3 linked regions of the Homo sapiens genome follow. The protein of the gene in region 1 interacts with the protein of each later gene in a biochemical or structural test. Each region holds a gene or a part of one and is shown in the gene's direction. Other genes may lie near its edges.

Region 1 (5,293 bases):
CCTTTATACTTTTATCTTTCAAACATATATCCTTTCACAGTATTGTCTCCCTTTCATAAATATTTATTAAGTGTGTTCTGTATGCAGAGGGTGAAACTGAACAAGGACTCTACTCTTTTAGAGCTTACCTAAAACAGATAAGTAATTTATGTAGCAGTAGGTGATGAGTGCCATGAAAAATTTAAAAAGTTATGGGATGGACAGTGAGGGAGAAGTTGTTTTACGTGGGATAGTCATGGAAGCCTTCTCTGAAGAAGTTACATTTGAACAGAGAGTTGAAAAATGTGAGGTCTGTATATAAGGCATGTAGGTTAAAGTGCCCATGAGACATGTAAGAGGAGATATGGAATGGATAGTTAGATATGTTGAGTCTAGTGTTCAGAGAATAGGTTAGGGGTATTGACACAAATTTGGGAGCGATCAGCATCCATGTGGGATTTCAAGCCGTGAGACTGGATAGGATCAGTTCACCTAAGGAGTAACTGTTGACAGGAAAGAGAAGAGAGCCAATTACTGAGTTCAGTGGCCCTCTACCATTTAGAGGTTAGGAAAAGAAGGAGCATTCCACAAGTGAGACTGAGAAGGAGGAGAAAGAAGGCTGTTTCAAAGATTCCTTAAAATGAAGTGAAGTTCAAATAAACATCATCGTTTTGACTATTTTAGAATGCCCTTGCCATTTTCATGAATGTTAGATACATTTGCATACCAGATAATGGAAGCCAGTATATTTTTAAATGTTGATTCTTTGCTTAAGATAAGCTTTATATAGTAAAGGTTACCTGTTTCACAGTGATTTGGCTAGAAGGAAATAAGTGTTGTGATAGCAGAGTCAAATTTTCTTTATTTTCTGCAGGGTAGTTTTTTATTTTTTTCAACATAAAGATTTACTGTGATGATAGCAGTTTTGCTTTAGCACAGTAGTTTTCAAACTTCAGCTATTTATGCATCACTTTTATGATTTTTGCTGTATCTTTTTAATATGATTTATTAGTACTGTGATTTTGCAGTTTCTGCTCTCATATATATCAGTATTTTGCAAACTTAAGTACATGAAATACATCTGTAGAACTTATTAAAACTGTTTGTTCCAACCCCTAGAATTTTCTATTCTGAAGGTTTGGGTTTCTGGCTTAAGGGTTTCCACTTCCAACAAGTCTCCAGGTAATGCTGGTGCTGTTGCTGCTGGTTTAGGGACCACACTATGAGAATCACTGACCTATACTATTATTTATTTTCCCTTAAGTACCATTTTTTAAAAAGGAGATATTTTTTCTCTCTTAAAATCAAATAGATACTATTACCTGCTGTAAATGGTCTGAGGCTGAGACATAACTTTTGTATATGTTTGGTGAAAAGATCTGGTGAAGGTTGGAAGACTGGTAAAACAAACCCACACTTTTGTCCTTAATGTAAAGTGAAAGGATCAAAAGAAAATGGAGGAAGGGGAAGCAACGTGCTTACCATTTTATTAAAGATTGTTTAATTCTGTGTCTATGAACTGCTTACCTTACATATAGTACCAGTGGTATGATATGCAATATTTTAGCAAGTAACTGCTTTAGAATATGATTAAGTACTTGGTTCACTGTCATTGTGACCGTGAGCCTACAATGTTTGTATGTTGTCAGGTATATTCAGCATGTTGTGTATTGATTTACAGAATTAGCGTTATAGAAAAATTATGGAAGAATAAAACAGAACAACATGCTAATCTGATATGTATATATTGTCCTAAGAAAATTCTGTTTATTGGCCAAGACTTTTATTTTAGTAATGCAGAGTAGAAAGCACTTAATTTTTCTGCTTAGACAATGTTCTAAATAGATTGGATTTTTTCCCTTTTTAAAATTTATTTTCAAAAAGTCACTCTCTTAGTAGTCATGGCTCTAGAACCAAATATACAATTTTAATAGTACTTAACATTATTTTATGTTATGAAATCATAGGCTTAGGCCACTATAGATGTCAGTTTTTTGAGTAGCAGCATCAGTAACCACGAGTCATACTTAACTTTAAATGGGAATGTGGTCACAAAAGGCACGTTGAAACGCTGCTGATTCCCTGCCCCATTTCAAAAGATGATTGGTGACAAGATACCCAGATGGTTGGGACAACTTTAAGCAAGGTGATTGAAGAAGGTACCAACAGGACAACTTGAACTTGGGTACCTGTGGCTTCTTAGAAATGAATAGCAGTTACCAGATGTTGTTTTAGTAACTGTTGCTGCATAAGAAATTCTGCTACAATTTAGCAGCTTAAAACAAACACAGTTTCTGGATCAGGTAGGAATCCCGTTGCCACTTAACTGGGTGTTTCTGACCCAGCATCTTTCACAAGCCTGCAGCTAAGCTGTTGTCTGGGACTGCATTCATCTCAGAGCTTGCTAGGGAGAATTTCTGCTTCCAAGCTTCCTCACATGGCTGTTGGCAGACCTCAGAAAAGATACTGTAGGAGTGGATAACAATGCTAGAGTAAAAGTTCAAGCATATTCTTTATCTTCAACATTTGAAAAGCTCTGATTTAGGACTGTATGACAGGAACTAGGATGGTTTGAAGACTAGCACATTCCCGACAATGAACAATTTACAAGCAGCAAGTGGCTCTTTGATATGATGTGATTTTTGTTTTATGATTTCACAGTATAGCAACATTTTGGCAAATAATTCTAGATAGCAAATGAAAATGACTCCTAATGGAAGATTAACAAAGGAAACTAAGCATGATGGGTAAGAATCTCAGAAACAACTACCTTTGAGAATTAATCTTATTGATTCTCTTTAAAACTCATGTTTACATATTGTTTTAAGAATTTTTTCATATTTACATGCAAGTACTGTTTTAAATAATTCTCACATCTCTCTACTTTTCTTCATTCCAGCTGATACCACTGTAAGTTCAGGTTCCCACTGAGTCCATTCAGAATTATTGCAACTTGACTTCTAACTAGATTCTTCCCTCCAGCCTTATTTAAAAGGAAGAAATTCCCCTCAGAGCCATTCTCCAACTTTTTATGAAGTGTTCTTTGTTTTTTAAGATCAACTTTGGGGTATAATTAATATATAATAAAGCGAACACATTTTAAGTGTAGTTTTTGGGTTTTGACAATTGTATACATTGGTGTAGCCACCCTGATCAGTATGTAGTATACAATTTCATCTTCCTAGAAAATTCCCTTGTGTATCTTCCCAGTCAGTCCTCACCCTCTACCCCTAGCCTCGGGCAGCCACTAATTTGCTCTTTATTTTGATAGGTGAGATTTATCTTTCTAATGTTTAATATAAATGGGATCATGCTGTATGTGGTTTTTTGTGCCAGCGTCTTTCACGTAGCATAATGTTTGAGAGACTTATCCATGTCATTTTATGTATTAGTTGTTCTTTCCTTTTATTGGGAGTATTATTCCATCCTCAGGCAATTTATTTATATCCATTCACTGGATATGCACCTTGCTTATCCATTCACTGTCTATGTTCGTTTGGTTATATTTTCATTTTTGGCTGTTATCAGAGGTCGGCAAGCTAAGGCATTAGCCACCTGTTATTACGAAAAGTTTTGTTGGAAAACATCAATGCTGGTTCCTTTTGTGTTTTCTATAGCTGCATTCATGCTGCAGTGGCAGAGCTGAGTAATTGTTACAGGTACACAGCCCCCAAAGCCTAAAATGTGACTACTTGACCATTGAAGAAAATATTGTCAACCTCTGCTGTTAGGAATAAAGTTCATTCCTGTAAAACATTCATGTACAGGTGTTTGTGTGGACATACGTTTTCATTTTTCTTTTACTTCCTAGAACTATAATTGTTGGGTAGATGTTTGAGTTTATAAGAAATTCAGTTTATAAGACGTTAGGTTAACACACTTAAGATGTTTGCTTAAGTATATGAGAATTTGGGTATATAAGAATTGCTGGATCATTTGGTGTATATTTAAGTATATATGAAATTACCTTTCTCAAAGTGATAGTACCATTTTACATTTTCACCACCAGAGTATGAGAGTTCTATTTGCTGTATATCCTCTTTGACATGTTATGTTGTCAGGGTTTTTTTTTTCTCTTTAATTTTAGCCAATCTAGTAGGTGTATAGTGGTATTTCAGTGTGGTTTTAATTTTCATTTCTTGATGACTAATGATGTTGAGCATCTTTTTAGGTTCTTTTTGGTCATTTGTGTTTTCTTGATGGAGAATCTGTCCGAATCTTTTGCCTTTTTGGTACTGGGTTAATCTGTTGTTAAGTAGTAAGGACTGTTTATATATTCTAGATACAAGTCCTTTGTTATTTGTGTTATGAATATTTTCTCCTAATCTGTAACTTAAAAATTTTATATAAAGAAGGTTTTGGCCTAGTATGGTGGCTCATCCTTGTAATCCCAGTGCTTTGGGAGGCCAAGGTGAGAGGACCGCTTGAGGCCAGGAGTTTGAGACGAGCCTGGGTGACACAGTGAGACTCTGTCTCTACAAAAATAAAAGTAAAAAAAAAAAAAAAAGTAGCCAGGCATGGTGGTATATAACAGTAGTCCTAACTACATGGGAGGCTGAGGCAGGATGGTTGCTTGAGCCCAGGAGTTTGAGGCTGTGGTGAGCAATGACAGCACTACTGCAGTCCTGCTCGAGCTACACAGTGAGGCCCTGTCTCTAATGATAATAATGATAATAATAACAAAAGATTTCATTTTATTTCTCCAGTTTTCTAGTTGTGTAAAATGGGAGGATAAATCTGGTTTGCTTACTTCTTTGTGGATAAAAGCCATGTATACTTCCTGCTTTATACAAAGCCTTCTCCTATGGCTAAGATTTTTCTTTTACCATTCCCGTAGTCCCTATCTTTTTTTTTTTTTAATCCTGAATAACTTCTCTGTATGTTCAGGTCTCAGCTTAAAATTTACTTCTCTGGAAAACCTTCCCAAATCCTAAAACATATGGTAGGTGCTTTTTAAATATGCTTTTATAGCTCTGTATGCTTCTCCATGTTTTTATTGCCCTTAGATTTTAAGGTTTTTCAGGACAGGGACAGTGAATTTTTTTTGTTCATGGCTGTATCCTTTGGGGCTATCAGAAACTAAAGTCTGGCAAAGACTTGGTATCCAGAGGTCTCCTGAATGAGTAAGTGTTTAGAATATCAGTAATAGGAGGCATGTGTTACCTATACACTTTCTGAGCATAGATGAAATTTTTGTTTGTTATAATTCTTTTCAAATTCATTGAAAGTAACCATTCTGTTTTGTTCTTATTGAAATTTAAAAGATGACAGTAGTGCATTTTGATCTTGGTGGCAGTACTCAGTCTTCCAGAAG
Region 2 (3,500 bases), on another chromosome or scaffold:
GCCTGGGCAGGAGTAGCCAGCAAGATAGGGAGGAAACCAGGAGAAGGGGCTGTTCTGAAAGCCAAGGGTGGAGTGCAGTGGCACAATCTCAGCTCACTGCAACGTCCGCCTCCTGGGTTCAAGCGATTCTCTTGCTTCGGCCTCCCGAGTAGCTGGGACTACAGGCGCGTGTCACCACACTCTGCTAATTTTTTGTATTTTTTTTTTTTGAGATGGAGTCTCGCTCTGTTGCCCAGGCTGGAGTGCAGTGGCGCGATCCCGGGTTCACGCCATTCTCCTGCCTCCCGGGTTCACGCCATTCTCCTGCCTCAGCCTCCTGGGTAGCTGGGGCTACAGGCGCCCGCTACCATGCCTGGCTAATTTTTTGTATTTTTAGTAGAGACAGGGTTTCACTGTGTTAGCCAGGATGGTCTCAATCTCCTGACCTCATGATCCACCCGTGTCGGCCTCCCAAAGTGCTGGGATTACAGGCGTGAGCCACCGTGACCGGCAATTTTTTTTTTTTTTTTTAGTAGAGGCAGGGTTTCACCGTGTTAGCCAGGCTGGTCTCGATCTCCTGACCTCATGATTGGCCCGCCTCGGCCTCCCAAAGTGCTGGGATTACAGGTGTGAGCCACTGCGCCCGGCCAGACATTTTAATCTCACAGTTCTGGAGACTAGAAGTCCAAAACCAAAGGGTTAGCAAGCACACACCCTCAAAGGCTCTAAGAGGGCAATCCTCCCTTGCCTCTCCCAAGCTTCTGCCCCATTTATTCCTGGGCTTGTGGCTGCCTCACTCCAGTCTCCGAGGCAGTCCCGACATGGCCTCCTCCCCTTGCGTCTCCCTCTGGCTTCTCTCTTCTGTCTCTCATAAAGACACGTTGTTGGATTTAGGGCCCACCCACGTCACCCAGAATGATCTCATCTTGAGATCCTACATCTGCAAAGACCCTTTTCCCGAATCACATATGTTTCAGGGGTTAGAACATGGGCATATCTTTTCGGGGGGCTACCATTCAGCCCACTACACTGGATGAGGGGCCGGTACCCTCCACTTCTCCTGCTTGGAGGTGTGTAGGGGATCAGGATTCCCAGCATACTGACATCTCCCTCCACAAACAGTCTTGTCCCGACTCTCCCATCTCTGGTGAAATTCTTCTATTTCCAGCCTGGAGCTAGGCCTTTTCAAGTCCCACATGGGTGGTCCAGCACCTCCCTTTGGAATGGGAGTATCTGCTACCCCTTAGACTGAAAACCCACTTTAGCATCCTGATACACTAGGTGAATTATCAGCATTCTGTTTAAAATGTAGCCCCAGAACTCATAGGCTTTTTCTGCTGGGTAAGGATGTGGGTCTCCTGTGACTCCCCTGCTGCCTTTCTCTTTCAGCCCTTGCCCTGTTGGATGAATAGGCACCTCTGGAAGAGCCAACTGTGTGAGATGGTGCAGCCCAGTGGTGGCCCGGCAGCAGATCAGGACGTACTGGGCGAAGAGTCTCCTCTGGGGAAGCCAGCCATGCTGCACCTGCCTTCAGAACAGGGCGCTCCTGAGACCCTCCAGCGCTGCCTGGAGGAGAATCAAGAGCTCCGAGGTGAGGAAAGAGTCAGGGGATCCAGCCCTGCTGAGGGGAAGGCGTCTTCTCCCCACCTGCACCTCTGCGTTTCCTGGGCCTGGGGTGGGGATGTGCTGCCCTCCCTCTTGGTTTCAGGAAGTAGACTCTGAGATGCAGATTAGCGGGGAGGAAGTTTAGCATGCTCTCAGGACCAGTACTGGGAAGGGAAAGGAGGGACAGGGGAAGAAGCCAGGGAGGGCAGAGGGAGAAGCACGCTGCCGGGTAGGCTCCAGGACAGCCTTGCTGGATCTTACAGGGAGCTCTGGAGCTGGAATGAACCTTCCAGGTTGGACCAACATGTCCAGGCCTCTGTGTCCCTGCACTGAGCACTCATGAAGTGCTGTCCATCCTGGGACAGGGCAGAGTCGGCGCTGGGAAGAGGCGTGGTCTGCCCAGAGAGGGGGTGGGGCCTGTCCTGGAAATGGGCGGGGCATGCCCTGGTAGAGGGGCGTGGTCTGTCTTGGGAAGGAAGGTGCGTGGCCCCCACAGGCAACATTCCTCTGGGGCAATCCCGGCGCACACCTCAGCGGAGGTGAAGGCTGACTTCCCACACCCAGTGGCTGGGACTGGGGAGTTCTTTCCTAGACTGCCATCCGGGCGCCCCTCACCCTCTTGCTGCTCAGCTCCAGGTCGTCATGGGTTCAGGGCTCAGCTGCACGCTCCTGCCCGCGCCCTGGGCGTGATGGCACCCCCAGCCCCTGCCATTCTTCCCCCTCACCCCCTCTCCCTGCCACTGCTCTGCATTGCCCTGGGTTAGCCTGGCGGGGCCAGGTGGCACCCGCCATATACTCTTGCCTTTCTGCTGCGGGGGCCTTCTAAGCCTCGGGTCCCAGAGCTGCAGGGAGGGGCGGCATAGACTCCCCACATGGCTCACTGGGTGTGGTGGGGCCTGTAGCCCTTTTTGTTTCATCCTTTGGTTCCTGCTGGGGACTCAGGCCTAAGTGTCCACCCCATCGTGGAGGACAACACCCCTTCCTTGCAGGAGTCATCCCTGAGCTGGCAGCTTCAATTGGCTCTCCGTGTCCTGGCTGGCTGGCAGCTCCTGGGCGAGGTGGCATGTGCCGTGACTACTAGAGATCGCTGTCATGGGCCCACTCCCCCGCCTTCTTTGCTGGACTGTGGTCCGAGATGTTATGTGGGGCTCTGTGCTGACAAGTCACATAGTCTGTAGGCTTCAGAGAGTGGCTCTGGCTGACACCCCGTGGGCAGAGACAAGACCCATGCCTGCGATGTGTCTCCTCTTACTGTCAAGGCAAATCACCTTTCCTTCCATGGAGGAAGGGGTCAGTGCAGTCAGCTTGCTGTCAGGGGGCTGCTTGGTCTCCTCGACGGTGAGGCTGAATTGGAGAGGCCCTGCTGGAGCATGGAGACCCAACATGACCTGCCTGTTCCAGGACAGGGTCCCCCACCTCAGTGCCATCGGCACCTGGGGCTGGAGAATTCTCTTGTACGTTGTAGGGTGTGGAGCAGAGTCCCTGGCCTGTACCTGCTAGATGCCAGTAGCACCTGTCCTGTTGTGACAACTAACAATATCCCCAGATATTTATTGCCAAATGACCCCTGGGGGATACAGTTGTCCCTGGTGAGACCCACTGTATTGGGATCTTCAAAGCACTGGTGCACAGAGAGGTGACAGTTAGACTGGGGGCTTCTGCTCATCCCCAGGAGAGTGCTCTATTGAGGGGGACTTGAGGGTGAGTGTTGCAGGCCAGCTGTGCAGGGACCCTGGCACAGCGTATGGCGCCCTTGCTTCCCTTCCAGGCTGTGTGTTCAGTGCAGCAGCTTCCCTCGGGCTCCAGGGACACAAGGAGGCCTCAAGGCTGTATTGACTCCCCCTGCTCCGCCTGACCTGAGCTTTGTGGGTGGCAGGTGAAACTTGGTAGCTCCATGTGTCAGGCCCTGGGCCAAG
Region 3 (3,500 bases), on another chromosome or scaffold:
ATTTTGACCGCTATTTAGAAGAGTGACCTCATAAATCTTTTAGCAAAGTAGACACACATACCTACCACATTTCTTAAAAGTAGATTCGTATTTTGATTTGAGATTGTTGAAAAGCATGGTATGTTTGGAGTGCACTTAGTTATGTCCCATCTCATAAAGACTGTTGAGCTCTCTGCACTGCTGATGATGAAGCATTGCATGAACCCAGAAAACGGGGATGCCAAAGCACAGGGCTTAGGTGCTGTTCCTTGCGTCATCAGCAGAGGTCTGTCCACTTTGTAGAAGGTAAGGGGTTGAGATGTGGGCTTTGCTTGTGTGAATGTATGTGCTGTTTAATTTTTTCTGTGTGTTTCGGGCGGAGGTTTCTCTGGTGAGTTATAATTCATATTTACCCTGATTTAAGTCATGTCACTTTAGGTAGCCAGATTCAAAACCATCAGATGAAGGACTTTTGGTGTTAGAGGGATTAGCAGTTTAACAAAACTTCTGATTCATGGCCCAAGATCAGATTTGGTTTGGAATCAGAACACTTTGGACTAGTTTCTGCATCTGGCTTGAGTCCTTGTGGATTTCTTGTTTTATTTCTTTATTTTTGGCAATCTGTAGTGCATTTTGGCATAGTTTACTTATGAATGTTACCGCTAACTTTCTGAAATCTTTTATTCCATTTTAGAAAGGTATCATTTATTGAAAAGATTTTTCTACTGAACAAAATACTGGGATTGAATGGCAGCTTCTTATCACATTAGATATGACATTAAGTAATTTCGTTAGTAGTTAAAATGAAGCAAATGGCATAGAAATGAAGGCCAGGCTGACATAGGATAAATGGCACCTTCTCTCCTTATCCTGTACAAACACGGATAGTTGGCTACTTTTGAATGCCTCTTCTATACCAATGGTAAAAATCCGGCTTAATTGGGGCCACATTCTAGCCTAGTCACAATCAGTGGCTTGCATTATGTCCTTTGAGATGTGGCAGATCTGCTTATAGGTGCCAGTCACCACGGCTCCCTGCTGGCTTGGGGGTCTTTCTACTCATTTACATATAATTATCTACTTCTTAATCAACCATTAAGGTTAACTTTTGGCATGGATCCTGTATGCTTTTCAGTTTAAGATGCTGTCACTTTTAAGATGCGCCATGAGAGCAAAGTGCTAAGCCTTGTGCACATACTATGTCATTTAGTTCTCATGAGAACTGTGTGAGGTAGGCTGTGATTTACAGATGAGGAATGAAAGCTCAAAGAGGTTACGTGACCTGCATAAGGACACAAAACAAGTTAAGTTATGGAGCCAGCTATTTTGAATAGAAAGGCCTAGTTTTTAACATGCTGAATATCCTCCCCTTCTGACAAATGCCTTGAAAGGTCTTACTATCTAGATTATTTAAGATAATGTAAGAGAAATAAACACCACTGGTTGCAAACTGATGGCTGCTGGGCCCGATTTGACCAGGAACCCTGCTTAATGTGGTCTCTAGAGTGTTTTAAAGCTTGGAAATTTCATGAAAATGGTAAAAATCTGGCTTAATTGGGGCCACATTCTAACCTAGTTACAGTCAGTGGCTGGCATTATGTCCTTTGAGATGTGGCAGCTAGTTGTGCTATGGTTGCAGTCACCACTACTTTCTGTTGTCTTAGGGGTCTTTCTACTTGTTTACATATAATTATCCACTTCATAACAAACCTTTAAGGCTAACCTTTGGCGTGGATGCCATATTTCTTTCACTTTAGTGTGCTGTCACTTTTAAGATATGCCATTATTTCATGTACCACGAAGAAAAAATTGCTGTCAAGTTATGACATACTGTCCATCTTATGAAGCATCCTTATTTCAGAGAAGTTGAAATATGAGAAAAAGGATATTTTAGAATTGATGAATTACAGTGACTAGAAACCTGGGAAAACTCCATGCCATCAGTTTCAATATCCCCAATCATTCAGTACTTTTAAGTCAACGAGTAGTCAGATTTCTGCTTTTCTGTGTTTGAGGAAAGTGCTAGAAAAAGAGAAGTGCTCTTAAATAGGCATTAGCACAGAAGGAACTGGGGGCCTAGATCATAGCCAACTGGATGGCCGTCTGTAAGTGATTAAGAATAGTTGTTAGTTTTTAAAAAGTGGCCTGTGTGTATTTTCAAGAGATTACTTGGGAAACCCTATGTGCCATCTTTGCAGCTGTGCAAAACGGTGAGGACAAGATTGCTTTCAAAAATTGTGGTTTAGATTTTGCTTGGATCTCAAGGTGAATGCTGACAGGCCGTTTTCTGAAGAGAGAGAAGGCTTGCCCAGTCATGCCAAGTCCAAGTGCCTGTGTCGGGCCTAGATGCTGGATGGTAGACTGTATACCCAGGACATATAGGTAATGTTTGAGAAACAAATGTTAAAAGGACCTAGTTTTCATGGTGACATTTAAAATCAGTTTTTAAAATTCATGAATATAACATGTTGTTTTAAAATTTGATTATAGGGACCGGGTGCAGTGATCACTCCTGTAATCCTAGCATTTTGGGAGGCCGAGGCAGGAGAATCACTTGAGTTCAGGAGTTTGAGGCCAGGCTGGGCAACGTGGTGAAACCCCGTCTCTACAAAAAATAGAAAAGTTAGCCAAACATGGCGGCACGTGCCTGTAGTCCCAGCTACTTGGGAGGCTGAGGTGGAAGGATCACTTAAACCTGGAGGCAGAGGTTGCAGTGAGCCAAGATCATGCCACTGCACTCTAGCCTGGGCGACAGAGTGAGACCCTGTCTCCAAAAAAAAAAAAAAAAAAAAAAAGACTAATGAATAGAATTTATTTTCTTCAATGATGTAGTGTCTGTGGAATTTGTAGACATTGACATTTGAATTTTCATTATATTTAGTTTTATTAAATCAGAATGTTATGATTGTTTATTTCATTATTGAACATCAGTTTCCTTAATTTAAGGAATAAAAATAATTTTGCTCAGGCCAGACATAGTGGCTCACATCTGTAATCCCAGCACGTTGGAGGCCAAGGCTGGTGGATCACTTGAGGTCAGGAGTTTGAGACCAGCCCAGCCAACATGGTGAAACCCTGTCTCTACAAAATAAATAAATAAATAAATGAAAAAAAAATCAGCTGGGTGTGGTGGTGGACACCTGTAATCCCAGCTACTCTGGAGGCTGAGGCAGGAGAATAGCTTGAACCCTGAAGGCAGAGATTGCAGTGAGCCGAGATCGCACCACTGCACTCCAGACTGGGTGACAGAGTGAGACTCTGTCACAATAATAACAGGCTGGGGCAGTGGCTCATGCCCGTAATCCCAGCACTTTGGGAGGCCGAGGCTGGAGGATCACCTGAGGTCAGGAGTTTGAGACCAGCCTGGCCAACATGGTGAAACTCCGTCTTTACTAAAAATACAAAAATTAGCTGGGCTTGGTGGCAGGCAACTGTAATCCCAGTTACTCGGGAGGCTGAGGCAGGAGAATTGCTTGAACCTGGGAGGCAGAGGTTGCAGTGAGACAAGTTCGGGCCATTGT

What was found.
Region 2: the proteins of TMA16 (region 1) and IKBKG form a complex in vitro, tested with the Homo sapiens proteins (one study listed by BioGRID and IntAct).
Region 3: the proteins of TMA16 (region 1) and NEDD4L form a complex in vitro, tested with the Homo sapiens proteins (one large-scale study listed by BioGRID).

Annotation. Positions count from the first base shown.
Region 1 is NC_000004.12:163,507,190-163,512,482, forward strand, and holds part of TMA16 (translation machinery-associated protein 16), read left to right. Parts: intron 1-5,293. UniProt on the Homo sapiens protein: Involved in the biogenesis of the 60S ribosomal subunit in the nucleus.
Region 2 is NC_000023.11:154,550,620-154,554,119, forward strand, and holds part of IKBKG (NF-kappa-B essential modulator), read left to right. Parts: intron 1-1,368; coding exon of another isoform or gene 1,369-1,383; coding exon 1,384-1,570; intron 1,571-3,500. UniProt on the Homo sapiens protein: Regulatory subunit of the IKK core complex which phosphorylates inhibitors of NF-kappa-B thus leading to the dissociation of the inhibitor/NF-kappa-B complex and ultimately the degradation of the inhibitor.
Region 3 is NC_000018.10:58,047,226-58,050,725, forward strand, and holds part of NEDD4L (E3 ubiquitin-protein ligase NEDD4-like), read left to right. Parts: exon of another isoform or gene 1-285; intron 286-3,500. UniProt on the Homo sapiens protein: E3 ubiquitin-protein ligase that mediates the polyubiquitination of lysine and cysteine residues on target proteins and is thereby implicated in the regulation of various signaling pathways including autophagy, innate immunity or DNA repair.